Linked DNA regions of Homo sapiens: region 2 is linked to region 1. The links come from fine-mapping of genetic effects on gene expression. A gene starts in region 1. The other region holds a variant in brackets. All regions are shown on one strand. Distances are from middle to middle. Region 1 holds the start of VSTM1 (V-set and transmembrane domain containing 1). Region 2 overlaps VSTM1 (V-set and transmembrane domain containing 1).

Region 1 (15,897 bases):
TGTTGCATCTATCCTTCTTCTTCTTTTTTTTTTTTAGACGGAGTCTTGCTCTTTCATCCAGGCTGCAGTGCAGTGGCACAATCTCAGCTCATTACAACCTCTGCCTTCTGGGCTCAAGAGATTCTCTTCCTGCCTCAGCCTCCCTAGTAGCTGGGATTACAGGCGCCTGCCACCACGCCCAGCTAATTTTTGTATTTTAAGTAGAGGTGAGGTTTCACCATGTTGGCCAGGCTGGTCTCGAACTCCCGACCTCAAGTGATCTGCCCACCTCTGCCTCCCAAAGTGCTGGGATTACAGGCATGAGCCACCGCGCCGTGCCTGGCCTGCATCTATCTTTTTGTCTCCTAGATTCCTTCTTCCCCAGCCATGTCCCACGACAGGAAAAGAAATACGTGCATCAGGCAGGCTTTGGTGACTCACGCCTGTAATCCCAGCACTTTGGGAGGCCAAGGCAGGAGGATCACCTGAGCTCAGGAGTTCAAGACCAGCCTGGGCAACATAGATCCTGTCTCAACAAGTAATTTAAAAATTAGCCAGGCATGGTGGTGCTTGCCTGTACTCCCAGCTACTTGGGAGGCTGATGTGGGAAAATCGCTTGAGCCTGGGAGGTCGAGGCTGCAGTGAATTGTGTTCATGCCACTGCACTCCTGCCTGGGTGACAGAGCGAGATTCTGTCAAAAAAAAAAAAAGCAGCCGAGCGCAGTGGCTCACTCCTGTAATCTCAGCACTTTGGGAGGCTGAGGTGGGCAGATCACTTGAGGTCAGCAGTTCGAGATCAGCCTGGCCAACATGGTAAAACCCTGTCTCTACTAAAATACAAAAATTAGCCAGGTGTGGTGGCGCACCCCTGTAGTTCCAGCTACTCGGGAGGCTGAGGCAGGTGAATTGCATGAACCCAGGAGGCGGGGGTTGCAGTGAGCTGAGATCATGCCACTGTACTCCAGCCTGGGCAACAGAGCAAGACTCCCTCTCAAAAAAAAAAAAAAGGCTGGGTGTGGAGGTTCACGTTTATAATCCCAGCCCTTTGGGAGGCCGAGGCAGATGGATCACTTGAGGTCAGGAGTTTGAGATCAACCTCACCAATATGGTACAACCTCATCTTTATTAAAAATACAAAAATTAGGCCGGGCGCGGTGGCTCATGCCTGTAATCCCAGCACTTTGGGAGGCGGAGGCAGGTGGATCACAAGGTCAGGAGATGGAGACCATCCTGGCTAACATGGCGAAACCCCATCTCTACTAAAAACACAAACAATTAGCTGGGCGTGGTGGCGGGCGCCTGTAGTCCCAGCTACTCGGGAGGCTGAGGAGGGAGAATTGCTTGAACCCAGGAGGCAGAAGTTGCAGTGAGCCGAGATCGTGCCACTGCACTCCAGCCTGGGAGACACAGCAAGACTCTGTCTTAAAAAAAAAAAAGCAAAGCCAAACCAAAGAAATGTGTGCATCAAAGAGTACATCTGCCCTTCTCACCTGTGACCACCAGCTGCAAGTGTTCACTGCTTTCTGACCACTCATGGGAGGCTGTTGTCTTGTAGGCACAAAAGTACCTCCCAGCATCCTTAGGCTTCAGGTCCGTGAAGGGGAATTCAGCTTCGTTTTCTGCCGAGCTCTGTTCCTGCTTGTACCCAGAGTCGTTCACCTTGCGCAGCACAAATGTCACATTCTGGGAATGAGCCTGACACTTCAGGGTCACATTGCTCTCGGCTTCAACCACCGAGCTGGGCCAGGCGTGGAGGGAGGGCTTGGGCGGTTTCTCTGGAAACAATTCAGAGTTAATTTGAGTCTAGAATTCAGACGATTAAAGGAAAAGGTCATGAAGCGTGGGATGCAGGAATAAAAGTTTAAGTAGGAGAAAACTCACCATTCTTTTTCTCATCTTCGTAGCCCAGACACAGCCCTGGAAGAGAAATCTCAATGAGAGAAAAATTATGTGCTTGTCCTTGAGTACAAATCCAGCAGAGAACGTATGACTAGCTCTTTATAGGTCTGAGATATATATATATATATAATGTATATATGTATTATATATAATAAATGTATTAAGTATATGTACACATATTACATATAATACATATATAAATATAATATATATATTAAATATATGTATTACATATATGTATATATTTTTGGCAGATATCTCCCCAGACTTACCTCTTACTTTTGTTCCATTGTTTGTCATTCAGAAGCTACGTGTATGGAGAAAATTCCAGCAACTTCTTCTTTCTTTTTTTTTTTTTTTTTTTGAAATGTAGTCTTGCTCTGTTGCACAGGCTGGAGTGCAATGACATGATCTCAGTTCACTGCAACCTCCGCCTCCCAGGTTCAAGCAATTTTCCTGCCTCAGCCTCCCGAGTAGCTGGGACTACAGGCACCCGCCACCACACCTGGCTAATTTTTGCATTTTTAGTAGAGACAGGGTCTCACCATGTTGGCCAGGCTGGTCTTGAACTCCTGACCTCAGGTGATCCACACGCCTCGGCCTCCCAAAGTGCTGGGATTACAGGCGTGAGCCACTGCCCCCGGCCCAGCAACCTTTTCTGATGTATTGAATTGCTTTCATGAGTAATCCTTTCACCATCTAGAAATTGTTCAACATTCACCTATGCTTTTTTCTGGTATTTTCTGTGATTGCAGTGTTTTGTTTTGTTTTGAGACAGAGTCTCGCTGTGTCACCCAGGCTGGAGTGCAGTGGTGCAGTCTCAGCTCACTGCAACCTCCTCCACCCCCTGGGTTCAAGTGATACTCGTACCTCAGGCTCCAGAGTAGCTGGGACTACAGGTGTGTGCCATCGTGCCCAGCTAATTTTTGTTGTTGTTGTTGTAGAGATGGGGTTTCACCATGTTGCCCAGGCTGGTCTCAAACTCCTGAGCTCAAGTGATCCACCCGCCTCAGCCTCCCAAAGCGCTGGGATTACAGGCATGAGCCACCGTGCCCGGCCTGATTGCAGTTTTACCCTTGCCACTTAAATAATGCAAAGGTTATTTTATCGTGGAGTGAGAGTGGTGGGTTTTTTTTTTTTTTTTATTTTTCGAGATGGAGTCTCGCTCTGTCACCCAGGCTGGAGTGCAGTGGCGCGATCTCGGCTCACCGCAAGCTCTGCCTCCCGGGTTCACGCCATTCTCCTGCCTCGGCCTCCCGAGTAGCTGGGACTACAGGCACCCGCCACCAAGCCCAGCTAATTAATTTTTTTGTATTTTTAGTAGAGACGGGGTTTCACTGTGTTAGCCAGGATGGTCTTGATCTCCTGACCTCGTGATCCACCCGCCTCGGACTCCCAAAGTGCTGGGATTACAGGCATCAGCCACCGCGCCCGGCCGAGAGGAGGGTTTTCTTGCTCAATTCCAATAGAGAGAATCTGCTCCCCCTTCCCCGTGTCTTCTGGTCCCAAATACTCTCCTCACTTTAGCTTTGGTTTCCACTTACATTATCCCCTCCCTCTTCTGTGTTCTGTTCTCTACATTCCCCGCTGGGAAGGTAGCGTCTTAAACTTGGGTGGAAAATGGGATGTCAGTCATGGGGCTTGTTTCAGGGTGAAGTTACGTAGAATTTAGGTAGAAATTCTCTAGAGCCACGACAGTGTCTCAGGACATTGGTTCCTTGTTGACACAGGTGCCGATACAGAACGTGACCCCCCACCAAGCTTCACCACAGAGGAATGAGGTGGAGGCCTCACGATGGACCGAAGCTGCGTTGGCAGCGAGATTAGCTGGGATTGGCAGGTAGGAAACAGCCTCTGGGTGGGCAGGGCATCCCAGGACTCAGGCTCTGTTTTGAGACCCTCCCCAAATCCCGCTTTTAGATTCATGTCATCTCATCTCTGCTATCCACCCATCGTCTGTTCAAACAGTGATTCCTATATTCTTTTTTCTTTTTGAGACAGGGTCTCACTCTGTGGCCCAGGCTGGAGTGCCAGGGTGCAGTCACAGCTCACTGCAGCCTCAACCTCCTGGGCTCAAGTGATCCATCCATCTCAGCCTCCCAAATAACTGGGACTACAGGCATGCACCACCACGCTGGCTGATTTTAAAATTTTTTTGTAGAGATGAGGACTCACGATGTTGCCCAGGCTGGTCTCGAACACCTGAGTTCAAGTGATTCTCCCACCTTGGCCTCCCAACATGCTGGGATTACAGGTGTGAGCTACCTGCACCCAGCCCAATTCCCATATTCTTTTTCTTTTCTTTTTTTTTTTTTTTTTTTGACATGGAGTCTCCCTCTGTCACCCAGGCTGGAGGGCAGCGGTGCTATCTTAGCTCACTGCAACCTCTGCCTCCCAGGTTCAAGCGATTTTCCTGCCTCAGCCTCCCGAGTAGCTGGGATTACAGGTCCTTGCCACCATGCCCAGCTAATTTTTGTATTTTTAGTAGAGACGGGGTTTCACCATGTTGGCCAGTCTGGTCTCAAACTCCTGACCTCAAGAGATCTGCCCGCCTGGGCCTCCCAAAGTCCTGAGATTACAGGCGTGAGCCACCACACCTGGCTGATTTGTGTTTCTTGAAAAGAGAAGTTCAAGTTGTAACTCCCAGGACCTGCGAATGTGACCTTATTTGAAAATAGCATTGTCTGATCTTTGCAGATGTAATTAATTAAACTAAGATGAGGTCATACTAGAGTAGGCTGGGTATCTAATCCAATATAACTTACAAGAAGAGAAAAAGAGAGACAGAGACACACAGAAGGAAGACGGCCATGCGAAGACAGAGGCAGAGAGGCCAGGCTGCAATCATAGTGCTTTGGGATGCCAAGATAGGAGAATTGCTTGAGCCCAGGAGTTGGAGACTAGCCTGGGCAATATAGCAAGATCCCATCTCTAAAACAGAAATTATTTTAATTAGTCCAACATGGTGGTGTGCACCTGTAGTCCTAGCTGCTCAGAAGGCTGCGGGGAGGACTGCTTGAGCTCAGGAGGTTGAGGCTGCAGTGAGCTATGGTGGTACCACTGCACTCCGGCCTGGGCAACTGAGTGAGACCCTGTCTAAAGAAAAGAAAAAAAAAAACAGAGCCAACGATTGGAGTGATGCATCTACAAGTTAAAGAATGCCGGGAGCGCTGGCTCACGCCTGTAATCTCAACAGTTTGGGAGGCTGAGGCGGGCAGATCACCTGAGGTCAGGAGTTCGAGGCCAGCCTGGCCAACGTGGTGAAACCCTGTCTCTACTAAAAATACAAAAATTAGCCAGGCATGGTGGTCCATGCTTGTAATCCCAGCTACTTGGGAGGCTAAGGCAGGAGAATTGATTGAACCCAGGAGGTGGAGGTTGCAGTGAGAAAGATCATGCCACTGCACTCTAGCCTGGGTGACAGAGCAAGACTCCGCCTCAAGAAAAAAAAAAAATGCCAAGAATTGTCAGCCATCACTAGAAGAGGGGCATAAAACAGACGCTCCTTCATAGTTCTCAGAAGGAATCAACATTGCAAACACCTTGGTTTCAGACTTCTCATCTCCCCAACTTAAAGCAATTCTAATTCCTTTAAGCCACCAGGCTTGTAGTACTTTGGTATGGCAGCCATTGGGGGATGAGGTCAGTCTCCTGGTTGCCCAGCTTACTGTGCTCAGCAGCTGGAGGCTTGGGTATGAACCCGATAGTCATCTCTAAGGCACAAATAGCCGGGTGCAGTGGCTCACACCTGTAATCCCAGCACTTTAGGAGGTTGAAGTGGGTAGATCACCTGAGTTCAGGAGTTTGAGACCAGCCTGGCCAACATGGTGAAACCCCATCTCTACTAAAAACACAAAAAATTAGCCAGGCGTGGTGGCGTGTGCCTATAATCCCAGCTTCTCGGGAGGCGGAGGCAGGAGAATCGCTTGAACCCAGGAGGTGGAGGTTGCAGTGAGCTGAGATCACACCACTGCACTCCAGCCTGGGAGACAAAGCAAGACTCTGTCAAAAAAAAAAAAAAATGCTCATCTAAGGTGCAAATGTGTGTAGGAGACGAGCATTACCCCACAAGGAAGGGCTGCACCCAGAAAAGGAGGAAGGAACTGAAGCAGACGAAGCACGTCGATGTCCACCGCACCCCCCGTGCACCAGGGAGGAACTGGGGCCTTAGGGAGGTGGAGCTCTGCTGGGTCAAGCCTAGAGTTTCTATGTAGTAAAGCCGAGATTATAACCCAGGTCATCCGTTTCACAGTGTGAGCTCTGTCTGAATACATCAGGTTCAATTGGAGGATGGTTAAAATCAGCCTAAGAATCGAGCTGGTCAGAAAATTGTCTTCTTGGGGCCAGGTGTGGTGGCTCACGCCTGTAATCCCAGCACTTTGGGAGGCTGAGGCGGGCGGATCACCTGAGGTCAGGGGCTCGAGACCAGCCTGACCAACATGGTGAAACCCCGTCTCTACTTAAAATACAAAAGTCAGCCGGGTGTGGTGGCCTGCACCTGTAGTCCCACCTACTCGGGAGGCTGAGGCAGGAGAATCGCTTGAACCTGGGAGACGGAGGTTGCAGTGAGCCCAGATCACGCCATTGCACTCCAGCCTGGGCTACAGAGTGAGACTCTGTCTCATAAATAAATGCATACATACATAAATAAATAAATAAGAGAGAGAGAGAAGAAAATTGTCTTTTTGCCCACAGCCTTGCACCCTGTAGATCCCTAAGCCCAGCCCTCCTCTATTCCGACGGAGGATGATGGCAGTACTGCGGTATTTAGCGGCTGCAGACTCGGAGACCCCACAGCAGCTCTGCCTTTCCCAGCGGAGTCTGTCCCCGTGTCTCTGCAGCGCGGCCTCCTCCTCGCTTGCATGTGGGCGGCAGAACTCACAGAACCCACAGCCCAGACCCACCCACCGCAGGTGTGCAACACCTGGAAGTCATTACTTCCACACACCGCATTTCCACCTGGACTGCCACTCCCACATGAGTTTTTCTCACCAGCCCAAGCCCATTCGTCCCAGTCCTGGAGACTCACCGAGGCAAAGCAGGGAGAGGAATTCTGCGGTCATAGCGTCCCTTCTGCCAGAACCAAGGCCCCGCCTTGGGTTTTACCCTTCAAAGGCGGAGCGGGACTGGGCCGGCCGCAGCTCTCCGGCTGCCCGGTTCGTCCCCAGGATGTGCAGATAGAGGAGGTTTTGCTCTGACACTCTGGTTCTCTGCCCCACTCTTGCAGTTTCCTTCTCACAACCGACTCAGGAAACAAGAAGCCGTCGATGATAACTTCTTCCCCATGAATCCGGTGTGTGTGGCCCCACCCGCCCGAGCTCTGTCCTACCTTATCTGAAGTTCTGCCAAGAGTTTTCTGTAAATGTAATTTTTTATTTTAAAACACTAATACCGGCCGGACGCGGTGGCTCACGCCTGTAATCCCAGCACCTTGAGAGGCTGAGGCGGGCGGATCACCTGAGGTCGGGAGTTCAAGACCAGCCTGACCAAAATGGAGAAACCCCCGTCTCTACTAAAAATACAAAATTAGCCAGGCATGGTGGCGCATGCCTGTAATCCCAGCTACTCCGGAGGCTGAGACAGGAGAATGGCTTGAACCCAGGAGGCGGAGGTTGCTGTGAGCCAAGATTGTGCCACTGCACTCCAGCCTGGACAACAACGGTGAAACTGTCTCAAACAAGCAAACAAACAAACATTAATACCTATAGCTTTATAGCTTCCGTGTACCCACTAGCCAGCTCCCCACAATGTTAACCTTTTTTTGGGGGGCGGGGGGGACAGAGTCTTGCTCTGTCACCCAGGCTGGAGTGCAGTGGCGCGATCTCGGCTCACTGCAACCTCTGCCTCATGGGTTTAAGGATTCTCCTGCCTCAGACTCCCAAGTAGCTGGGATTACAAGCATGCACCACCACACCCAGCTAATTTTTTGTAGAGATGGGATTTCACCATGTGGGCCAGGCTGGTCTTGAACTCCTGGTCTCTAGTGACCCGCCCACCTCAGCCTCCCAAAGTGCTGGGATTACAGGCATAAGCCACTGTGCCCGGCCAATGGTAATCTCTTATAATTACAGTACTTTTTTTTTTTTTTTTTTTTTTTGAGACAGAATCTCTGTCAGCCAGGCTGGAGTGCAGTGGCACAATCTTGGCTCACTGCAACCTCTGCCTCCCGGGTTCAAGCGATTCTCCTGCCTCAGCCTCCCGAGTTGCCGGGATGACAGGTGTCCGCCACCACTCTTGGCTAATTTTTTTTGTTCTTTTTAGTAGAAACGAGGTTTTGCCATGTTGCCCAGGCTGGTCTCGAACTTCTGACCTCAGGCGATCCGCCTGCCTCGGCCTCCCAAACTGCTGGGATTACAGGCGTGAGCCACCACGCCCGGCGTATGGCACATTTTCAAAACCAGAGACTTTGCACTGGCATCACACGTTTAACCAGGTTCCAGAGGTCACTCAGATCTCACCAGTTTGTGCATAATTCGTTTCTCTTTTTCTCTTCCTCTTCCTTCTATTTCTATTTCCTTTTCTCCTTTTCCTTCTTTTCTCCTGCTCTTCCTCCTCTTCCACCTTCTTTTCCTCCTCCCTTTTCTTTGCCTATGGGTATAGTTCTGTAACATTTTATTGCCTGTATGTATGGCTTTATAGAACCACCGCCACAATCAAGACACAGAACTGTCCCACCACCACGTAGGAACTCCCTCATGCTGCCCCTTTATAATCGCTCTCCCACCCTAGCACCTGCTAATCTGTTCTACGTCTCTATCACTTTGTCACTTTGAGACTCTTGTATAAATGGAATCGTCCATCGCCTCACCTTCTGAGGGTGACCTTTTTCACTCAGCACAATGCCTGTGAGATTCATTCAAATGGTTGTGTGTTATGATGATGGATACATTAGCCGGGCGTGGTGGCACACGCCCATAGTCCCAGCTACTCAGGAGGCTGAGGCAGGAGAATCGCTTGAACCCGGGAGGCGGAGGTTGCAGTGAGCTGAGATCACGCCACTGCACTCCAGCCTGGGTCACAGAGCAAGACTCCATCAAAAAAAAAGAATTATCTAATGGATACAATGTGTGTCACTGGGTTAGTGGATACCTGAAAGCCCTAACTTCATCATTTTGGAATCTATCCATGCAATAAAGTTACACTTGTACCCCATAAACGTATACAAATAAAAAATAATCGTCTGGGCATGATGACTTACCGCTGTAATCCCAGCACTTTGGGAGGCTGAGGCGGGATTACAGGTGTGAGCCACCATGCCCGGCCTATACTTTCTATCTTAATAACTACAAAAATAATAACTTGCTGGATGGGTCCCTGTGCCCACCCCGTCCTGTCCTAAGTGAGGAGGATGGGAAGAAAGCCATCGTCCTGTCCTGGTGCGGCTCTCAAACAGCTGGAAATGCTGGCTGCACAGGAAACTCTAAGGATCGGCAGCTCTAGCGCATGCTACCCTTGGCAGCTGTGTGGTCTGTGGATAGAGAAGGACCAACCTGTGGTTAGTGGAGGAAGAGGAGGAATATTGCTTTGATAAGCACATCCTCAGAGTTATAACAGAGGAGACAATAGTTATAAAATAAGAATGATATTTACGAAAAATAATAAGACTATTAACAAGAAACAGCAACAAATCTTGAAAACAAAATGTAACAACAAAACATAAATGTTGACTTTTTTTTTTTTTTTTTTTTTGAGACGGAGTCTCGCTCTGTCGCCCAGGCTGCAGTGCAGTGGTGAGATCTCGGCTCACTGCAACCTCTGCCTCCCGGGTTCCAGCAATTCTCCTGCCTCAGCCTCCTGAGTAGCTGGGATTACAGGCATGCACCACCACGCCCAGCTAATTTTTGTATTTTTAGTAGAGATGGGGTTTCACCATATTGGCCAGGATGGTCTCGATCTCTTGACCTTGTGATCCGCCCACCTCGGCCTCCCAGAGTGCTGGGATTATAGGCATGAGCCACAGCACCTGGCAACTGTTGACATTTTACATCTGCACCAGTAAGACTGGCTACCAATTACAAGCAAATGGATGCCATGGATAGAATGGAATTCCTGCCAAACTGGGTAAAATGTTGGAAACATATAAAATAAAATGTAAAAGAAATGTATTATAAATACAGGCTGGGCGTGGTGGCTCATGCCTGTAATCCCAGCACTTTGGGAAGCCAAGGTGGGCAGATCACTTGAGGTCAGGAGTTCGAGACCAGCCTCGCCAACATGGTGAAACCCCGTCTCTACTAACACACAAAAATTAGCCAGGCATGGTGGTGGGCGCCTGTAATCCCAGCTACTTGAGAGGCTGAGGCAGGAGAGTCACTTGAACCTGAGAGGGAGGTTGCAGTGAGCTGAAATTACGCCACTGCACTCCAGCCTGGGTGACAGAGTGAGACTCCCTCTCCAAAAAAAAAGAAAGAAAGAATGTATTATAAATACATATGACCAAGCACAGTGGCTAACGCCTGTAGTCCTGGCACTTTGGGAGGCCAAGATGAGAGGATCACTTGAGTCCAAGAGTTCGAGACCAAGTTGGGCCATATGGTGGAACCCGGCTTCTACAAAAAATACAAAATTTAGTCCGGCATGATGGCACACACCTGTGGTCCCAGCTACTCAGAAGGCTGAGATGGGAGGATTACTTTAGCCTGGGAGGTCGAGGCTGCAGTGAGCCGTGATCTAGCCACTACACTCCAGCCTGGGCGACAGAGTGAGACCCTGTCTCAAAATAAATAAATATAATAAATAAATAAATATGTATATCCCAATATTGGACTAAATGCTGGTCCAGAAGCACAAAATAGAAAGAACGGAGAGGAAGTATTAATAAATATTACACAGGAAGCAATGTTTTTCCCTTCGTGTGGAGGAAGAGTTCCCCGCAGGTGAGAGTCACCTACTACTCAATCTGACTCTGAAGTTTTAAGTATTGATTCAAGTTATCAAAAATGTATTAAGGGCTGGGCACGGTGACTCAAGCCTGCAATCCCAGCACTTTGGGAGGCCGAGGTGGGCTGATCACTTGAGCTCAGGTGTTCAAGACCAGCCTGGCCAACATGGGTGAAACCCCATCTCTACTAAAAGTACAAAAATTAGCTGGGCATGGTGGCAGGCGCCTGTAATCCCAGCGACTTGGGAGGCTAAGGCAGGAGAATCGCTTAAACCCAGGAGGTGGAGGTTGCAGTGAGCCGAGATCTTGCCATTGCACTGCAGCCTGGGTGACAGAGCGAGACTCCGTCTCAAAGAAAAAAAAAAAAAGTATTACGTGGCTCATTGTGCCCAATTCTGTCCTCTGTCCCCAGTGAAAAGTACAGGAAGAAGAAAGCCACCATCCTGCCCTACAGCAGATCCCAACAGAGCTGAGAGTGCAGGTTCCACAGAAAGCGGTTAAGGCTCAGCTGGTCCAACCCATCATTCCCTGGGCAGCTGTGGGATCTATGGCTAGAGAAGAACAGAGCTGAGCTTAGAGGGGAAGGAAGAGGAGGAAGATTGTTTTCTCCCGGCATCCAAACACAGCTTTTCAACCAGGGGGAGCACCACCCTCACTTCCCATCGCCCCATCCAGGGATATTTGAAAGGTATGAGAGTAGTGGCTTTTTTGTTGTTGTTGTTTCACAATAATTAGGTCTCCAACAGGTGTTCAATGGGAAAGGAAGTATTAGCAATGTCGAGTTACGTGTTCCTATAATGGACAAGACAGTCTCACATGGTGAAGGACTATTGCACTTTAAACACCATTTGTGGCCATGCCCGGTGGTGCACACCTGTAATCCCAGCACTTTGGGAGGCTGAGGCAGGTGGATCACTTGAGGCCAGGAGTTCGAGACCAGCCTGACCAATGTGGCGAAACCCCGTCTCTCCTAAAAATACAAAAAAATTAGCCAGATGGTGGCAGGTGCCTGTAGTTGCAGCCACTTGGGAGGCTGAGGCAGGAGAATCACTTGAACCTGGCAGGCGGAGGTTGCAATGAGCCGAGATCGCACCACTGCACTCTGGCCTGGGCGACAAAGCGAGACTCTGTCTCAAAACAAACAAACAAACAAAAAAACAAAAAATACCATTTGTGCCCATGTGGAGAAACGTGTGAAGTCCCCATGGTAGAGTCTGATGTTTAAAGAACCCCATATGGATTGAATGCACAGCAGGGCGGCTACAGTTCACAAGGCTGCACTGGGTAATTACAATTTGCTAAGAAGGTGGATCTTAAACAGAAAGGTCCATAAGCTAGATTGAGATAACCATTGTCACAATGAGTGAAATTTCTTCCTCGGCACACAATTAATTACTTAGTTAGTAGGAAAGTTCCCAGAAGGTGGATCTTAAACAGAAAAGTCCATTAGCTACATTGTGATAATCATGTCACAATTAGTGAAATTTCTTCTTTGGTACACAATTAATTATTTAGTAGGGAGGTTCCCAGAAGGTGGATCTTAAACAGAAAGGTTCGTTAGCTACATTGTGATACTCATGTCACAATCAGTGAAATTTCTTCCTTGGTACACAATAAATTACTTAGTAGGAGGGTTCCCCACCCGTAGGCTTATGGGGGTATAATTGATAAATCAAAATGGAATATATCAAAACATCACGTTGTACACAAATATAACTCCATTTTTATTTGTCGATTAGATCTCAATAAATCTGGAGCAGAAGAGAATTCCATATCTCTACAGCAGCCCATGAAAGAGAGAGGGGATCCGTGTTTTAACTTGGATCTGTTACTGGAAAGGGGTCCCAGTCCAGACCCCAAGAGAGGGTTCTCGGATCTCACACAAGTAAGAACTCAGGGTGAGTACACAGAGTAAAGTGAAGGCAAGTTTATTAAGAAAGTCAAGGAATATGGCTGCTCCATAGGCAGAGCAGTCCAGAGGGCTGTCAGTCGGCTATTTTTGTGGTTATTTCTTGATCGTATGCTAAACAAGGGGTGGACTGTTCATGAGTTTTCCAGGAAAGGGGAGGGGATTTCCCTGGAACTGAGAGTCCCTCCCTCGTTTAGCTTCTGGAAGTTGCCATGGCATCTGTAAGCTGTCTTGGTGGCGGTGGGAGTGTCTTTTAGCATGCAAATGCATTATAATTAGCAAATAATGTGCAGTGAGGACGACCAGAAGTCACTTTTGTTGCCATCTTGGATTTGGCAGGTTTTGGCTGGCTTCTTTGTTGCATCTTTGTGTCTTTGGGTCTTTGTGACCTGTATGTTGTGACCTGTCTCATCCTGTGACTTAGAAAGCCTCAACCCCCTGGGAATGCAGTCCAGCAGGTTGCAGCCTCAGTTTACCCAGCCCCGGTTCAAGATGGAGTCACTCTGGTTTGAAGGCCTCTGATTCACCTGGAGACACATTCCGGCTGTACCAGGCCTCCACCAGGAAAGCTCCCATGATAACCACAATTACGGCAGCCAGACCCAGTCGTACGAAGTTACCCAGGGAGTAGTTGCTCGATGTGGTACCTGGGGGAACTGAAAGAGAGAAGGGGCTCAGCACTGACCCTCAGAGGGTATCCCTCCTTCTCAAATGGCCCCACCAAATCTGACTATCATCACCCACTTAATGTTTTCGGTTTTTTGGTTTTTTTTTTTGAGACGGAGTTTTACTCTTGTTGACCAGGCTGGAGTGCAGTGGTGTAATCTCAGCTCACCACAACCTCTGCCTCCCAGGTTCAAGCCTCCCTGCCTCAGCCTCCCAAGTAGCTGGGATTACAGGCATGTGCCACCATGCCCGGCTAATTTTATATTTTTAGTAGAGACGGGGTTTCGCCATGTTGGCCAGGCTGGTCTTGAACTCCCGACCTCAGGTGACCCGCCCACCTCAGCCTCCCAAAGTGCTGGGATTACAGGTGTGAGCCACCGCGCCCGGCCACCCACTTAATGTTTTCTAGCCAGTAGTCCACTGTACTTTAAAGTTTTAATTGAACTTTTTTTTTTTCTTGAGATCAAGTTTTGCTCTTGTTGCCCAGACTGGAGTGTAATGGCACAATCTCAGCTCACTACAACCTCTGCCTCCCGGGTTCAAGTGATTCTCCTGTCTCAGCCTCCCAAGCAGCTGAGATTATGAGCATGTGCCACCACACCCGGCTAATTTTGTATTTTTAGTAGAGACGGGGTTTCTCCATGTTGGTCAGGCTGGTCTCGAACTCCTGACCTCAGGTGATCCACCCGCCTTGGCCTCCCAAAGTGTTGGGATTATAGGCATAAACCACCATGCCTGGCCATAATTGAGCTCTTTAAAGTTTTAATCCCTGAAAACAAAAGATGGAATCTTTGTTGTTGTTTTTGAGACGACGTCTCACTCTGTTGCTCAGGCTGGAGTGCAGCGACGCAGTCTCGGTTCACTGCAACCTCCACCTCCTGGGTTCAAGCGATTCTCCTGCCTCAGCCTCCCGAATAGCTAGGATTACAGGCACCTACCACCACACCCGGCTAATTTTTGTATTTTTAATAGAGATGGGTTTTCGCCATGTTGGCCAAACTGGTTTCGAACTCCTGGCCTCAAGTGATTCGCCTGCCTCGGCCTCCCAAGGTGCTGGGATTACAGGCCTGAGCCACCGCGCCCGGCCAAGATATGCAATCCTAATGAGTTGTAATGGGAGTTCCTTTATCTTCCTTCCTTGATATTCACTCCACCTTAGCTCTCTTCCTTCGTTTATTTGCTCTTTATCCCATTTCCACCTTCCCACATTGCCTTTTCTCCTCCCGCATCCTTATGTTAAGGAATAGTCTTGGGGCAGCACATGAGACGGAAGGAGCTCTACAGAGCCCCGAATTCCGTGGCTGGATCAGCATCCTCGCAGCACACACTGCTGTGCAGCAGTGCACCTGAGAAAGTTTGAGTTGAGGCCGGGCACAGTAGCTCACGCCTGTAATCCCAGCACTGTGGGAGGCTAAAGTGGGAGGATTGCTTGAGGCCAGGAGTTCGAGAGCAGCCTGGGCAACATGGCGAAACCCCATGTCTACTAAAAATACAAAAAAATTAGCCGGGTGTGGTGGCGGGTGCCTGTAATCCCAGCTACTCAGGAGGCTGAGGCAGGAGAATTACTTGACCTGGGCCTGGGGTTGGGGGGTGGAGGCTGCAGTGAGCTCAGATTGTGCCACTACACTCCAGCTTGGGCGACAGAGTGAGACTCCATCTCAAAGAAAACAAACAAACAAACAAAACCCTAGCCTCCAGATTTTCAGGGAGGCTGATTTGAGTAATAATAAAACTCTGATTGGCCAGGTGCAGTGGCTCATGCCTGTAATCCCAGCACTTTGGGAGGCCCAAGCGGGCAGATCACGAGGTCAGGAGTTCGAGACCAGCCTGGCCAATATGGTAAAACCCCATCTCTACTAAAAATACAAAAATTAGCCAGGCAGGGTGGCACACATATAGTCCCAGCTACTCGGGAGGCTGAGGCAGAAGAATCGTTTGAACCTGGGAGGCAGAGGTTTCATTGAGCCGAGATCGCGCCACTGCACTCCAGCCTGGGCAACAGAGCAAGACTCCGTCTCAAACAAACAAACAAACAAAAAAACTCTGGTCTCCCACTTACCTGGCTCAATGTGTATTAAACTCTTTTTTGCAATTCCTCTGTCTTGATGAATGGGCTTCATCCAGGCACCCGGCAAGAGCTGTAATGTAACTCATTACAGCAGTTACAACAGATGAAAAATAATTTACAGAGCTGAGGAAGCAGAGTGCTAGCACCCAGTAAGGCAGGAAACAAGATACTTTCAGAAGAATTCTAGCAGTCAATAAAAGACATGGGTAGACTTCGCATCCACGGCATAGAAGCAGGAGGCTGTGCAAACACCATGTTCTGAGGATGAGATAATTTTTTTTTTAAATTTGAAACTGGGTCTCACTATGTTGCCCAGGCTGGTCTCAAACTCCTGGGCTCAAGCAATTCTCCAGCCTCAGCCTCCCAAAGTGCTGGGATTACAGGCCTGAGCCACCACACATGACTGAGAAAGAATTATTGAGAGTGAAATCACTAACACCAAGAAAAAACAAAACACGCCATGCACAGTGGTTCACACCTGCAATCCCAGCCCTT
Region 2 (15,897 bases), 25 kb before region 1:
GAAAAGTTACTGCAGCTTAAGCAGGAAACCCTTCTTGTTCAGGACTGTCATAGCCACAGTTTGCAAAAAGTGCAGCTATTGATTAATGTGATGTAGTGTCAATTAGAGGTACATCCCTGAGGTCTTTAAAACAAAACAAACTCAGCCAGGCACGGTGGCTCACACCTGTAATCCCAGTGCTTTGGGAAGCTGAGGCAGGCAGATCACCTGAGGCTGGGAGATTGAGACCAGCCTGGCTAACATGGTGAAACCCCGTCTCTACGAAAAATACAAAAATTAGCCCGGCATGGTGGTGGGCGCCTGTAATCCCAGCTACTCAGGAGGCTAAGGCAGGAGAATTGCTTGAACCCAGGAGGTGGAGGTTTCAGTGAGCCAAGATCGTGCCACTGCACTCCAGCCTGGGTGACAAGAGTGAAACTCCGTCTCAAAAAATAAATTAAATAAATAAATAATTAGCTGGACGTGGTGGCAGGCACCTGTAATCCCAGCTACTTGGGAGGCTGAGGCAGGAGAATCACTTGAGCCTGGGAGGTGGAGGTTGCAGTGACCAGAGATCGTGCCACTGAACGCCAGCCTGGGCAACAGAGCAAGATTCTGTCTCAAAAACAAAAACAAAAACAAAAAAAGGCTCAAGTTTATGAATGAACTGTTCATATCAGGTGATGGTCTTTCAAAATAATGACTGTTTTGTACCAACTATTGTGCTCATGTGATTGATTGAACAATGCTTCCAAAGAATTTGAAACAATAAGGCAAAGAAACCTAATGTTCATAACAGAAAAAAAAATTAAATGTATAGCACTAGAAAAATTGATTTTTTTTTTTTTGAGACAGGGTCTCACTCTGTCACCCAGGCTGGAGTGCAGTGGTGCAATGATGGCTCACTGCAGCCTCCACCTCCTGGGCTCCAGCGATCCTCCTGCCTCAGCCTCTAGAGTAGCCCGGACTACAAGCATGCACCACCATGCTCAGCTAATTTTTGTATTTTTAGTATAGACAGGGTTTTACCATTTTCCCCAGGCTGGTCTCGAACTCCTATGCTCAAGCAATCAACTTGCCTCAGCCTCCCAAAGTGCTGGGATTACAGGCATGAACCACAGAGCCTGGCATGATACTAGAAAAATTCTTTTTTTTTTTTTGACATTTAAGTTCAGGGGTACATGGGCAGGATGTGCAGGTTTGTTACACGGGTAAACGTGTGTCATGGGGGTTTGTTGTACAGATTATTTTTTTTCTAGTGTATTTACTACTTCCTGATTATCAGATTATTTTATCACCCAGTTATTAAGCCTAGTACCCACTAGTTATTTTTCCTGATCCTCTCTCTGCTACCACCCTCCACCCTCTGACAGGCCCCAGCATGTGTGAAAAATTCTTATAGTCTTCTAGAAAATACAATAGGTAGCCTTTGGAACATAGGGTATCATAAAGAGAAGCTGTAGAAAATATATTTCTTTGAATTTTTTTTTTTTTTTTTTTTTACAAATGATCACTATAATGTTTAAAATATGTTTACCACCTACAGTTGTGTGCTAGGGAAGCCATAACAAAATGCCCCCCACTGGGGGGCTTATGGGACAGAAATGGATTTTCTCACCGTTCTGCAGGCTGGAAATCCAAGATGGAGGTGCCAGTAGGGTCAGTTTCTCCCGGGGTCTCTCTGCTTTGTATGCAGATGGCCGCCTTCTTGCTGTGTCTCCACGTGGTCTTTCCTCTGGATGTACATATCCTGGTGTCCTTTTCTTTTTTTTTTTTTTGAGTTGGAGTCTTACTCTGTTGCCCAGCTGGAGTGCAATGACACGATCTCAGCTCACTGCAGCCTCTGCCTCCTGGATTCAAGCGATTCCCCTGCCTCAGCCTATCGAGTAGCTGGGATTACAGGCGTGCACCACCGCGCCCAGCTAATTTTTGTATTTTTAGTAGACATGGGGTTTGGCCATGTTGGCCAGGCTGGTCTTGAACTCCTGACCTCAGGCGATCCGCCCACCTGGGCTTCCCAAAGTGCTGAAATTACAGGCGTGAGCCACCACACGTAGCCCCTAGTGTCTTTTTTATGTCCAAATTTCCTTTTTTCACAACGGCCTCTTGTCTCTAAATACAGTCACATTCTGAGTTACTGGGAGTTAGGATTCAGCACACGAATTTTGAGGAGATGTAATTCAGCCCATAATTAAGCCCTATCCTCATCAGACTGATGATCTGTGCTTTCTCTGAACTAACAGGATTTATATATTCCTTTTTAACAGCAAGGAACTCAGGTTCTCCATGGCCCCTTTATGAAGTTGCTCCTGCTGGTACATGACCCTCAGTTAGTTTCCTGAAGTTATTTACAAAGCCACCTCCACATGTGTTGAGCCTCTTCAGTTTACTTCAAATCCTGGGCCTGTGCTGCATGGCGGTGCTTTCCACAGATTCATATGTTAGATCTTTTCTATTTTTTTTTCTGAGACAGAGTTTCCCTCTGTCGCCCAGGCTGGAGTGCAATGGTGTGATCTCGGCTCACTGCAACCTCTGCCTCCTGGGTTCAAGCAATTCTCCTGCCTCAGCCTCCTGAGTAGCAGGGACTACAGGCGTGTGCCACTATTCCCAGCTAATTTTTGTATTTTTAGTAGAGGCAGGGTTTCACCATATTGGCCAGGATGGTCTCGATCTCTTGACCCCATGATCCTCCCACTTTGACCTCCCAAAGTGTTGGGATTACAGGTGTGAGCTACCGCGCCTGGCCACATATTAAATCTTTTTTTTTTTTTTTTTTTTTGAGACAGAGTCTTGCTCTGTCACCCAGGCTGGAGTGCAATGATGGATCTCGGCTCACTGCAAGCTCCGCCTCCCAGGTTCATGCCATTTTCCTGCCTCAGCCTCCCGAGTAGCTGAGACTACAGGCACCCGCCACCACACCTGGCTAATTTTTTGTATTTATAGTAGAGATATGTTAGCCAGGATGGTCTCGATCTCCTGACCTCATGATCCACCCACCTCGGCCTCCCAAAGTGCTGGGATTACAGGCGTGAGCCACCGCGCCCGGCCTCATGTTAAATCTTGACACCCAATGTGATCTGAGAGGTTGGGCCTTTGGTGATGGCAGCAGCCACTCCAGACGGCTTGCTGCTGCCATGACGCCACCTGCCCCAGGGAGGCCCAGCCCGGGCTATACACGCTATGGAGCCGCAGGGAGCCCTGCCCCTTCCGAGTTGGGGCGGGAGCTCCCAGGGTGATGCTACAGCTGTCCAAACCCCAGCTGTGGATCCGAGCCTCCCTCAGATCGTATCACATATCAAGACTTACTCTTGTTGACAAAAAGAGTCAAACTCTATAAAATATTTGAAGAGATTTATTCTGAGCCAAATATGATAATGACCATGGCCCCTGACACAGCCCTAAGGAGGTCCTGAGACCATGTACCCAAGGTGGTCGGGGGGCAGCTTGGTTTTATACATTTTAGGGAGGCGTGAGGCATCAATCAAACACATTTGAGAAATACATTGGTTTGGTCCAGAAAGGCTGGACAATTTGAAGGAGGCAGGGCCTTCCAGGCTTTAGGTAAATTAAAACATTTTCTGGTTGACAATTGGTTGAGTTTGTCTAAAGACCTGGGATTAATAGAGAGGAAATATTCAGGTTAAGATAAAAGATTGTGGAGACCAAGGTTCTTTTGAAGTCTTATAGTGGCTGCCCTTAGAGACAATAGATGACAAATGTTTCCTACTCAGACCTTCAAAAGTTGCTAGATTCTCAGTTAACCTCCTCAGGATTGGGAGGTCCTGGAGGAAAAAGATCTAGCAATGTTAACAGAGATCCTTTACATATGCAAATATTCCCCCCCACCAAGGACAGCTTTGCAGGGCCATTTAAAAATATGGCAAAGAAACATGTTTTGGGGTAAAATATTTTTATTTTCTTCTTTGTTAGGTAATGTTATGCCAGAGTCAGATTGGAAAGTAAGTCACGATATATAGGGCTAAATAAAACCCATCTGATGAGAATTTATGGTTTGTAGGGCATGAGACCCCAGACCCCTTAGATAAGAATCTGGGCAAGATAAAAAAAAAAAATCAGAGCTGAGTCCTCACTATGGTAATTCAGTGAGTGTGACTACCAGCATAGATGTCCATAAAGGATATCCATTAGGGCCACCCATTTTAATAATGTTTGCCAGGACCCTTCAATCAAAACAAAATCCATTCTCAGAATAGCTTAGAATCAAAGGAGGACTTTTTGGGTTTTTTTGGTTCAAGAAGGATTGGGCAAGAAAACTGCAGGGAGTGAAGGAATGCTGAGCTTTGGAAGCAATTAGAACCAAGAAAACAAAAGCTGAAAGCACTGTTACTCACTCCCGCTTCCCGGATGCTCCCTGAGTCATCTTTGTGTTTCTCCATAAAGACTGGCTTCCTCCACATGGCGAGACAGATGGCCACCAAGAACTCCCAAGCTTAAAAAAGAATGACTCTCTGTGGCAAGAAAACAAAGAGACACTCCTCCCCACCTTGCTACTCCCTATGTGGCCTCCACACTGCAACCTGGGACTGTGTAGTGAGGGGAGGGGGAGCGAAGAAGTTTGCGTTAGTCTGTTTTCACACTGCTGATAAAGACATACCTGAGACTGAGTAATTTATTTTTATTTTTATTTTTATTTATTTATTTTTTTGAGACGCACTCTGTCACCCAGGCTGGAGTGCAGTGGCACGATCTCCGCTCACTGCAAGCTCCGCCTCCCGGGGTCACACCATTCTCCTGCCTCAGCCTCCTGAGTAGCTGGGACTACAGGCGCCCGCCACCGCGCCCGGCTAATTTTTTGTATTTTTAGTAGAGACGGGGTTTCACTGTGTTATCCAGGATGGTCTCGATCTCCTGACCTCATGATCCACCCGCCTCGGCCTCCCAGAGTGCTGGGATTACAGGCGTGAGCCACTGCGCCCAGTCAGTTTACTTTTTAAAAAAGAGGTATAACGGACTTACAGTTCCACATGGCTGGGGAGGCCTCACAATCATGGCAGAAGGTGAAAGGCACATCTTACATGGTGGCAGACGACAGAGAAATGAGAGAGCCAAGCAAAAGGGGAAACCCGTTATAAAAACCTCAGCTCTCCTGAGACTTGTTCACTACCATGAGAACGGCATGGGGGAATGTGTGGGTGGAGGATTAGCCAGGTGCTGAGGCAAGAGACTGAAGGCACAAACTGTTGCAGTATAATAAAGAAAATAGAATAAGAATAGTCATAATACAAATTAGATGTAGAGATGATCATGGACAATTATCAATCATTATTATAAACATTATTAATCATTAGCTTTTAATATTACTCTTTGCTGCATTACTAATATAACCTAGGAATAACCGGCGGGTATAGGGTCAGGTGCTGAAGGGACATGGTGAGAAGTGACCTAGAAGGCAAGAGGTGAGCCCTCTGTCACGCGTGCATCAGGGCCGCTTGAGGGGTCCTTGGTCAAGCGGTAACGCCAGTGTCTGGGAAGGCACCCGTTACTTAGCAGACGGTGAAAGGGAGTCTCCTTTCCTTGGAGGAGTCAGGGAACACTCTGCTCCACCAGCTTCTTGTGGAAGGCTGGATATTATCCAGGCCTGCCCGCAGTCATCCGGAGGCCTAAACCCCTCCCTGTGGTGCTGTGCTTCAGTGCTCACACTCCTTGTCCACTTTCATGCTCCTCCCGTACTCCTGGCTCCTCTTTGAAGTTCATAGTAGATAGCGGTAGAAGAAATAGTGAAAGTCTTAAAGTCTTTGATCTTTCTTATAAGTGCATGGAAGAAAACGCTGACGTATGCTGCCTTCTCCCTCTCTCTCTGCTTCGGCTACCTAAGAGGGAAGGGCCCCCTCTCCTGTGATCACACGACTTGCTTCACCTTGTCAATCACTTCGAAGATTCACCCTGCTTACCCTGCCCCCTTATCTTGTATGCAATAAGTATCAGCGCGCCCAGCCGTTATGGGCCACTACCGGTCTCCGCGTCTTGATGGTTGTGGTCCTCCGGGCCCAGCTGTTTTCTCTTTATCTCTTTGTCTTGTGTCTTTATTTCTTACAATCTCTTATCTCTGCACACGGGGAGAACACCTGCAAAGCCCCATAGGACCCTGCAGGAATCCACCCCCATGATTGAATTATCTCCCACTGGGTCCATCCCACAACACATGGGAATTATGGGAGCTACAACTGAAGATGAGATTTGGGTGGGGACACAGACACAAGCCATATATCAAGGTTGTTCCTTCAGATGCAGCAATCCTGGGAGCTTCTGGTTAGGACAAGATACAAGCAGAGACAGCTTCATGGGTATTGTAAACTCAATGTTTGTGTCCCGACAAAATTCAGCTGTTGGAACCTAACCCCAAGGTGATGGTATTTGTAATACGGGAGCTAAAAAGAAATTATTGAGGCAGACAGTGAGGGTAAGAGAGTCCTCAGTAAGGTTTCCTATTAATAAAGAGCAGCCCCCAAATAATTTCTTTTCTAACAGAAAGCAGCCTGAAACATCAAGCTGCAAGCATAGATAAACAAGCTAAAATCTTGCATCAGCTGTGCCAATAGAAAACGGATGCCTGGGAGCCGGGTATATTCAACATGGAGGTTCCCTCTTCCCTTTTCTTTGTCCCCACATGTGCAGTAAAAAAGCAGACAACATGGCCCCGGCCAGGCAGAGACCCTACCTACGTAATAAAAGATTAGGGTGGGATGGCCAGCTTCTTTGGGGGCTATGCAAACGTCATACCTGGTCCGACTAATCTCTCAGGCCCTATGTAAATCAGACAGCACCTCCTCAAGCTTGTCTATAAAAGCCCCATGCATTTCACCACAAAACCAGGGGTCCCACTCGGGAACCCCTCTCTTCTCTGTGCAAAAGAGAGAACTATTCTCTTTTCTCTTTCTTTTGCTTATTAAGCCTTCACTCTTTTTTTTTTTTTTTTTTTTGAGATGGAGTCTGGCTCTGTCATTCAGGCTGGAGTGCAGTGGCACGATTTCGGCTCACTTCAACCTCCGCCTCCCAGGTGCAAGCAATTCTCCTGCCTCAGCCTCCCAAGTAGCTGGGATGACAGGCACCCACCACTGCGCCCAGCTAATTTTTATATTTTTAGTAGAGATGGGGTTTCACCGTGTTGGTCAGGCTGGTTTCGAACTCCTGATCTCAGGTGATCCGCCCCCCACTCGGTCTCCCAAAGTCCTGAGATTACAGGCGTGAGCCACTGCGCCCGGCCCAGTCTCTTTCACTATGTAAGGACACAGCAAGAAGGTGCCAGCTATGAACCAGGAAAAAAGCCCTCAGCAGACACTGAATCTACCAGTGCTTTGGTCTTGGACTTCCAGCCTCCAGAACCATGAGAAATAACTATGTGTTGTCTGTAAGCTGCCAGGTCTTTGGTATGTTGATAGCAGCCTGGATGGACTAAGACACTCTCTCCTTCCCTCTCATGCCCTGGACCCTCATCAGGGCCAGAAGTGGTTGGGGTGATGGCCCAAGCAGACTTTAAAAAGCACTGGCCTAGCACAAGGGTTGGCACGCTAGAGCCCACAGCTTGTTTTTGCAAATAAAATTTTTTGTTTTTAAAACAACTTTCTGGGCTGGGCACGGTGGCTCACGCCTGTAATCCCAGCACTATGGGAAGCCGAGGCAGGCGGATGACTTGAGGTCAGGAGCTCAAGACCAGCCTGGCCAACATGGTGAAACCCCATCTCTACTAAAAATACAAAAAAATTAGCCTGGTGTGATGGCAGAAGCTTGTAATCCCAGCTACTCAGGAGGCTGAGACAGGAGAATCATTTGAACCTGCGGGGAGAGGTTGCAGCGAGCTGAGATCACGCCACTGCACTCTGGCGCCTGGGCGACAGAGCAAGACTCCATCAAAAAAAAAAAAACTTTCTATAGATACATAATATTTATGCATATTTATGACATACATGTGATAGTTTGATACATGCACAGAATGTATAATACTCAAATTAGGGTATTTAGGATATTCACCACCTCAAACATTTATCTTTTTTTTTATCTTTTCGAGACAGAGTCTCTCTCTGTCGCCCAGGCTGGAGTACAGTGGTGTGATCTTGGCTCACTGCAACCTCTGCCTCCCGAGTTCAAGCAATTCTTCTGCCTCAGCCTCCCAAGTGGCTGGGATTACAGGTGTGCGCCACCACACCCAGCTAATTTTTGTATTTTTAGTGGAGATGGGGTTTCACCTTGTTGGCCAGGCTGGTCTTGAACTCCTGACCTCAGGTGATCCACCCATCTTGGCCTCTCAAAGTGTTGGGATTACAGGAGTGAGCCACTGCACCTGGCTCATTTATCGTTTGTGTTGGGAATGTTTCAAATCTTCTCTTCTAGCTATTTTGAAATATACAATATATTGCTGTTAACTATAGTCACCCTTCTGTGCTATTGAACACTTGAACTTATTCCTTCTATCCAACTGTGTTTGTGCCCATTAACTATCCCACCCCTTCTAGCCTTTGATAACTGACTCTCTCTTTACCTTCATGAGATCTACTTTTTTAGCTCCTACATGAGTGAGAACATGAAGTTGTAAATAAAGTTTTATTCTAACACCGCCACACCTACTTGTTTACATATCAGCGATGGCTGCTTTCATGGTACAACAGCAGAGTGGGGTAGTCTCAGCAGAGATCCTACAGCCCACAAAGCTGGACGTGTTACTCTCTGGTCCTTTTGTTTTCTGCCCTCTGGTCTAGGAGTTTGCAGCTCTGGGCGTTTTTTGTTTTTTTTTTTTTTTTTTTTTGAGATGGAGTCTCACTCCATTGCCCAGGCTGGAATTCAATGGCGCCATCTCAGCTCACTGCAATCTCTGCCTCCTGGGTTCAAGCGATTCTTCTGCCTCAGTCTCCCAAGTAGCGGGGATTACAGGCGCCTGCCACCACGTCCAACTAATTTTTTATTTTTAGTAGAGATGGGATTTCACCATGTTGGTCAGGCTGGTCTTGAACTCTGACCTCAGATGATCCACCCACCTCGGCCTCCCAAAGTGCTGGGATGACAGGCGTGAGCCCGGCCGTTTTCTTTTTTGCTTGTTGTGCTTCCTGGAGATGCTCAGTAATTCTTACATTCTTTCCTGGATAGCTGGTCAATCATTATTTATTATTTCCTTGAATTGTTCTAGGAGGAAATGTGGGGTAGAAAGAGTATGGTGGGGTTCTTGGGCATGAATAATCCATAAATAAGTCAGATTTCTTTTTAAGACGAGAAACTTAATTTTATTGATATGGACGAAGAGCAAGGAAACACAGTATCTGCATCTCCAGATTTCCGATAACCTTGGCCAGCACGATCCCCCCTCCTTTAGTGGCCAGGGCTGTCTTCTTGCTACACTTTCAGTGCCGCATATTCATGAGATCCTGGGGGCTCCTGGGTGGTGTCTGAAGCTGCCTCAGACAGGGCGCTGGTGCTTAGCTCAGCATAGGTCACTCCTTGGGGGTCTGCCGTCTTTGGAGAAAATAGATGAATATTAGAACTGAGTGTTCAATATGGCAGCCACTAGCCACACATGGCTATTGACATTTAAGTTAATTACAATTAAATTTAATTTAAAACCCAGGTCCTCGGTCACACCAGATGCATTTCTTTTTCTTTTCTGTTTTTATAACCCTTTATGCCTGTGACATCAATGGATCTGCGTAAGCCTTTTTTCATTTTTTTTAAATTTTTATTTATTTATTTATTTTGGGACAGAGTCTGGCTCTGTCGCCCAGGCTGGAGTGCGGTGGCGTGATCTCGGCTCACTGCAACCTCCGCCTCCCGGGTTCAAGCCATTCTCCTGGCTCAGCCTCCTGAGTAGCTGGGATTACAGGCGCCCACTACCACGCCCAGCTAATTTTTTGTATCTTTAGTAGAGATGGGGTTTCACCATGTTAACCAGGATGGTCTCGATCTCCTGACCTCATGATCCGCCCGCCTCGGCCTCCCAAAGTGCTGGGATTACAGGCGTGAGCCAC[C/T]GCGCCCGGCCCATGCATAAGCCTTTTAAATGGAGATTTTGGTTCCCATTAGGGGAGTTTCGTGACTTGTCTAAGACCACATGCGTGATAAACAGTATACATTTCTGTATGGGCTTAACCAGGAGGCACACACGACCAGCCCATTGTGGTGAGGGAGCTCTTGTGGGACTCCTAAGCGGGAGGACTCACCGAGAGAGATACCCTTTCCATATTGGATAAATCTGCCTCTGAGTGAGAAAGGAAAAAAAAAAATCAGTTCTCAGCTGCAGAAGTCAGAACTTAGTCTTTCTATCCGGTGATTCCCTTAAACTTCCCCTGTCCCTTACCGGCAGCCTCCTGCTCCGGAAGTTTGGAATGGCTGGTTCTGAAAGAGAGAGACACACGTGAAAGGATGGGATGTGAAGATTTCGGGGAGAGGGTGAGGGCAATGGAGGGGAGAGGAAGGGAGAAGAAGGGAGAGGAGGAAGGTCACAGAATGGGCTGGGGTGGGGGCTCAGGGTGCCAATCCCGGATGTGCCAATGGGTTCCCTTGAGAATGACATGGGAATAAGTGGAGCATGAGCTATGCCAAGCATCTACCTCTTGGTGGATTCCTCAGATGATGAACCTACAAAAAATGCAGGAGGAATTTACCTACCGAGAAAATCCTTCACTCCCCCTCTCTCCCTTTGCGTTCTCTGAGCTCACTGTGCTGGCTGCATCTGTAGATGATGAAGACTGAGAGGAAGAGGAGAAGGATGGAGATGCAGCTGAAGATGGCGACAAAGATGGTTCTGGTGTCTGGAGGGGGAAGAGCAGGTCAGGGAATCAGCCTGGCTCCTGAAATCCACTGATAGGGGCGAGCCGAAAAGCTAAGAGAAGCCAGACAGATGGCCTGGCTTCCAAGCCTGGATCTCCCACCTCGGAGCTGGAACTTCCTATTGCTTTGGGGAATTTCCTTAATCTTCTCCAAGCTTCTGTTTCCCCATCTGTAAAGTGAGGATAGCAGCAGTAGCTACTTTATTGGATGGTGGGTCAGTACCTATAGAAAGGGCTGGAACAGTGCTTGGCGCATAGGAAATTCCAAAAATTCCCAGGGAATGTTTGGTGCATAGCAATGATATTGATCATTTATTGTGAGCCAGCTCTGTTCCAGGTGCTCCATATATATATATACGTGTGTGTGTGTGTATATATATATATAAATGTATATATATGTGTGTGTATATATAAATGTGTATATATATATATATATATATATATATATATACATATATATATATATATACACACTTTTTTTTTTTTGAGATGGAGTCGTGTTCTGTCACCCAGGCTGGAGTGTGATCCTGGCTCACTGCAACCTCCACCTCCCTGGTTCAAACAATTCTCCTGACTCAGCCTCCTGAGTAGTTGGGATTACAGGCGTGAGCCACCACATCTGTCTGTGTAATCACTGTCTGAAATCCACTGATGGGGTGAGTAGAAAAGCTAAGAGAAGCCAGACAGATGGCCTGGCTTCCAAGCCTGGATCTCCCACCTTGGAGCTGGAACTTCCTTGGAGCTGGACATTTCGACCAATAGACTTTGAGTAAAGCAGATGACCCACTGTCATAGGGGTGGGCCTCATCCAATCAGTTGAAGACTTTAAGACTTTAAGAGAAAAGACTGAGGTCCCCCAAGGTGGAAGGAATTCTGCCTCCAGACTCAAGCTGCAATATCAAGTCTCCCCTGGATCCCCTGCCTGCCTGCCCTGCAGATTTCAGACTTGCCAGCTCCCCACAATCACGTGAACCAATCCATTAAAATCAATCTCTCTCTCCATATATGTATATACATGTATATGTTCTCTTTTTTTTTTTTGAGACAAAGTCTCACTCTTATCGTCCAGGCTGGAGTGCAATAGTGCAATCTTGGCTCACTGCAAGCTCCGCCTCCCGGGTTCAAGCAATTCTCCTGCCTTAGCCTCCTGAGTAGCTGGGATTACAGGTGCCCACCATCACGCCCGGCTAATTTTTGTATTTTTAGTAGAGACGGGGTTTCGCCATGTTGGCCACGCTGGTCTTGAACTACTGACCTCAGGCAATCTGCCTGCCTCGGCCTCCCAAAGTGCTGGGATTACAGGCGTGAGCCACCACACCCAGCTTATATCTATATGTTCTATTGGTTCTGTTTTTCTGGAAAACCCTGGCTAACACAGACATGATCTCAGCTCTTAACTTCAAACATATTTCCTTTTTCTTTTTTTAAAGGAGAGAGAGAGATGTGAAAGGACGGGATGTGAAGATTATGGGGAGAGGGTGAGGGCAATGGAGGGGAGAGGAGGGGAGAGGAGGGAGGTCACAGATGGGAGCTCAGGATGCCAATCCCAGATGTGCCAATGGGTTCCCATTGTTGCCCAGGCTAGAGTGCAGTGGTGTGATCATACTCGAATTCCTGGGCTCAAGTGGTCCTCCTCACTCGGCCTCCAGGGTAGCTGGGAGTACAGACCACCACGCCCAGCCAACTTCAAACACACTTCAATGAGCTCGTTGATGCCAGGTAATGAACAGCAGTGACACGGGCATGGAAGGCGTTTAGAGTGGGGAGGGGTGGGGCTCTCTGAAGGAGACATGATTCCCCAAGACACAGAACAAGGGATCAGCTGGGAGAATTCAGGGAGGATTCCTAATAAGAACAGGGTTAGAGCAGGGTAGAAAAGAATGACCAGTGGCCGGGCACGGTGGCTCACGCCTGTAATCCTGGCACTTTGGGAGAGTGAAGTAGGTGGATCACTTGAGGTCTGGAGTTCGAGACCAGCCTGGCCAACATGGTGAAACCCTGTCTCTACTGAAAATATAAAAAATAAGCTGGGCATGGTGGCGCACGCCTGTAGTCCCAGCTACTCAGGAGGCTGAGAGAAGAGAATTGCTTGAACCTGGGAGGCGGAGGTTGCAGTGAGCCGAGATCGCATCACTGCATCATACACTCAACTGACCAAGACTCCAACTCAAAAAAGCATCCCTCTCAGGAGATAAAATTTCTACCAATTAAAAAACAAAAACAAAACAAAACAAAAAAAACTAGTTCTTGAGCAATATTGCCATGCAAGTCTACATCATAGCGTTTTAAAGTCTTAACAACAACCCTGCAAGGTAGTACAATTATTTCCCTCCCACTGGTGAAGGGCATGCATTCCCGTGTGACTCCTGGGATTACAGCAAGGGTTGTGTCCAAAGCTCACAGCGTTGAGGAAGAGAGAGCAACCTGTTACTAAAGCTAGGCGACAGAGTCCATGCAGTTCCCCCCCGTTTTTTGTTTTTCTTGGCACTTTAGATTCAAGAAACACAAGTCGTGAGACTTTAAGGAGTAAGTAGCAGAAACGTGATTAAGGAAAAAAGTTGAGCAACTATAGAAGTGAGGCCCCAGAAAGGGGCTTCACCAAGACCCCCGCTATCTTTGTTAGTGTGCTTTGAGTCTGAGAATTTTTCCTAGGTGTGCAATGATCTGTGGTCACATTACAGAGCCAAGTCTGAGATGCTTCACACGCCTGGTCCTCTGCACCAACAGAGGGTCTCCCATCCAGACGCTTCCCCTACTTGGTTCGCTATGTTTGCATTGGCATTTCTACATATCTATATATAGAGAATTACCTATCTAATTTATCTATCTCGCTAATCTATCTACCATCTGTCTAGGTATCTATTATCTATCTACCTATCTATCTTTATCTGTCTCTGTACCTACTTACCTATCATCTATCCAATCTATCCGTCCTATCTAATTATGATTTATCTATCTACCTACTTGCCTATCACCTATCCAATCTATCTATCCTATCATATGTAATTAACTATCTGTCTGTCTAATTTTTCTATCTTGTTAATCTATCACTTATCTAGGCATCTATGTATCTATCTTTATCTGTCTATCCACCTGCTTACCTGCTGTCTGTCTAATCTATCCATCCTATCATATCTAATTATCACTTATCTATCTACCGACTTACCTATCATCTAGTTACCAAATCTATCATCTATCTAATGTATCTATCAATCATAACCAGTTATCTATCATCTATCATCTATCATCTGTATGTATCTGTCTATTCACCTACTATTATCTATTTAATCTATTCTATCTAGTTATCTATCTATCTATCCACCTACTTATCTAATTTTTCTATCTTGCAACTCTATCACCTATCTAGGTATCTATGTATCTATCTGTGTATCTGTATATCTATCTATCTATCTAGCTAGCTTTATCTAGCTACCTAGTTACCTATCATCTATCTATCTAATCTATCATCTATCTAATGTATCTATCAATCATATCTAATTATCTGTCTATCTAATCATCTATCTTATCTATTATATCTAGTTATCTATCATCTAGCTAGCTAGCTAATCTATCTGTATCTATCTACCTACTTACCTATCGTCTATTTATCTATCTAATCTATCATATCTAGTTATCTATCTACTTACTTATCTAACCTGTTGTATCTAGTTATCTATCTACCTACTTACCTATCATCTGTCTATCTATCTAATCTGTCCATCGTATCTAGCTACTTATCTACCTATCATCTATGTATCTATCTAATCTATCATATCTAGTTATCTATTTATCTGCCTACTTGCCTATTATCTATCACATCTAATTATCTATCTATCCCCCTCCCTGAAATAAGGTTCTTTCTGAGCTGATCATCAGGGAGCAGCAAAAGGAGTGGGGAGTTTGAAACAAGACATATTTGAGTTCTAGTACTGGGTCTCCTACCTCCTGACTTTGTAAATGTTCCCTTCCCTTTCTGGAATACGTTATTTTTTGGTTAAATATAAGGAGGGGGCAGAGAGCTAATAATATCTAACTTGAAGAGTTAGGTAATGATGAAAAATCCTGGCTTTAAAGCGCTCAGTCTAGAAACTGACTCATTGTGTCGGATAATGGGATTGTAGGTATAATGATGATTTTTTTTCACCCAATATTCCACCTACACCCATCTCTCTCTGTAATAGATTCTGTCAATGTTCCTCAACCCATGTTCCCCAGATCCCTTTCCCATTTTTATGCATTCTAGATCGTGGCTTCTTTCCCTTTCCAAAGTGAACATTTGTATCTCTTCTTTGGGGGACTGCCTGGGAGAACTCCAAATGCCTTGGAATTTACATGCCCGGGACAAACTGCCACTGACGGCTGTGGGGACCCCAGCTCCCTAGCCTCTGGTCTTCGACCTTCTCTGTCTCCACTGCTTTCTGCAGGATGGAGCCAAAGATACCATCTGAGGGACACAGATATCCCACACTTGTTTAATCTATTTTCCTCCCAGCCCTTCTTCCCCACTCCCTAAAATGTAATTTTCAAGCCAGGCGTGGTGGCTCACACCTGTAATCCCAGCACTTTGGGAGGTCGAGGCAGGCAGAGCACCTGAGGTCAGGAGTTCGAGACCAGCCTGACCAACATGGAGAAACCCCGTCTCTACTAAAAATAGAATATTAGCTGGGTGTGGTGGTGCATGCCTGTAATCCCAGCTATTTGGGAGGCTGAGGCAGGAGAATCTCTTGAACCTGGTAGGCGGAGGTTGCAGTGAGCCAAGATCACGCCATTGCACTCCAGCCTGGGCAACAAGAGCGAAACTCTGTCTCAAAACTAAATAAATAATAAATAAAATAAAACGTCACTTTCACACTAATGCTGTCTAAGAGCCTGCTTCTGGTGGAGCTGAATCAGAGAACCCCTCAAAAGCAACAATTTTTTTTTTTTTGAGACAGTCTCACTCTGTCTCCCAGGCTGGAGTGCAGTGGTACAATCTCGGCTTTGGAACCTCCCCCTCTGGGGTTCAAGCAATTCTCCTGCCTCAGCCTCCCAAGGAGCTGGGATTACAAGCACCCGCCACCTCACCCCGCTAATTTTTTATATTTCTAGTAGAGATGAGGTTTCACCATGTTGGTTAGGCTGGTCTCAAACTCCAGAGCTCAAGTGTTCT

The links. PIP is the estimated chance that this variant, and not a neighbour inherited with it, causes the effect.
Region 2: its variant is fine-mapped to the expression of VSTM1 in whole blood (TOPMed, PIP above 0.99).

The regions. Positions count from the first base shown.
Region 1 is chr19:54,056,837-54,072,733 of GRCh38, forward strand. It overlaps VSTM1 (V-set and transmembrane domain containing 1), which reads right to left and starts at 7,061. Exons shown (of 9, transcript NM_198481.4): 1 at 6,908-7,061; 2 at 1,861-1,896; 3 at 1,470-1,754. The coding sequence starts at 6,941. It overlaps TARM1 (T cell-interacting, activating receptor on myeloid cells 1), which reads right to left. Exons shown (of 5, transcript NM_001135686.3): 5 at 13,059-13,324. The coding sequence ends at 13,167.
Region 2 is chr19:54,031,640-54,047,536 of GRCh38, forward strand. It overlaps VSTM1 (V-set and transmembrane domain containing 1), which reads right to left. Exons shown (of 9, transcript NM_198481.4): 5 at 10,638-10,730; 6 at 10,530-10,557; 7 at 10,277-10,314; 8 at 10,140-10,177; 9 at 9,186-9,441. The coding sequence ends at 9,322. Among named protein-coding and RNA genes, the nearest start is that of VSTM1, 24 kb to the right of the region's middle. RefSeq lists an enhancer at 4,246-4,821. The variant C/T (reference allele first, on the strand shown) is at 9,951.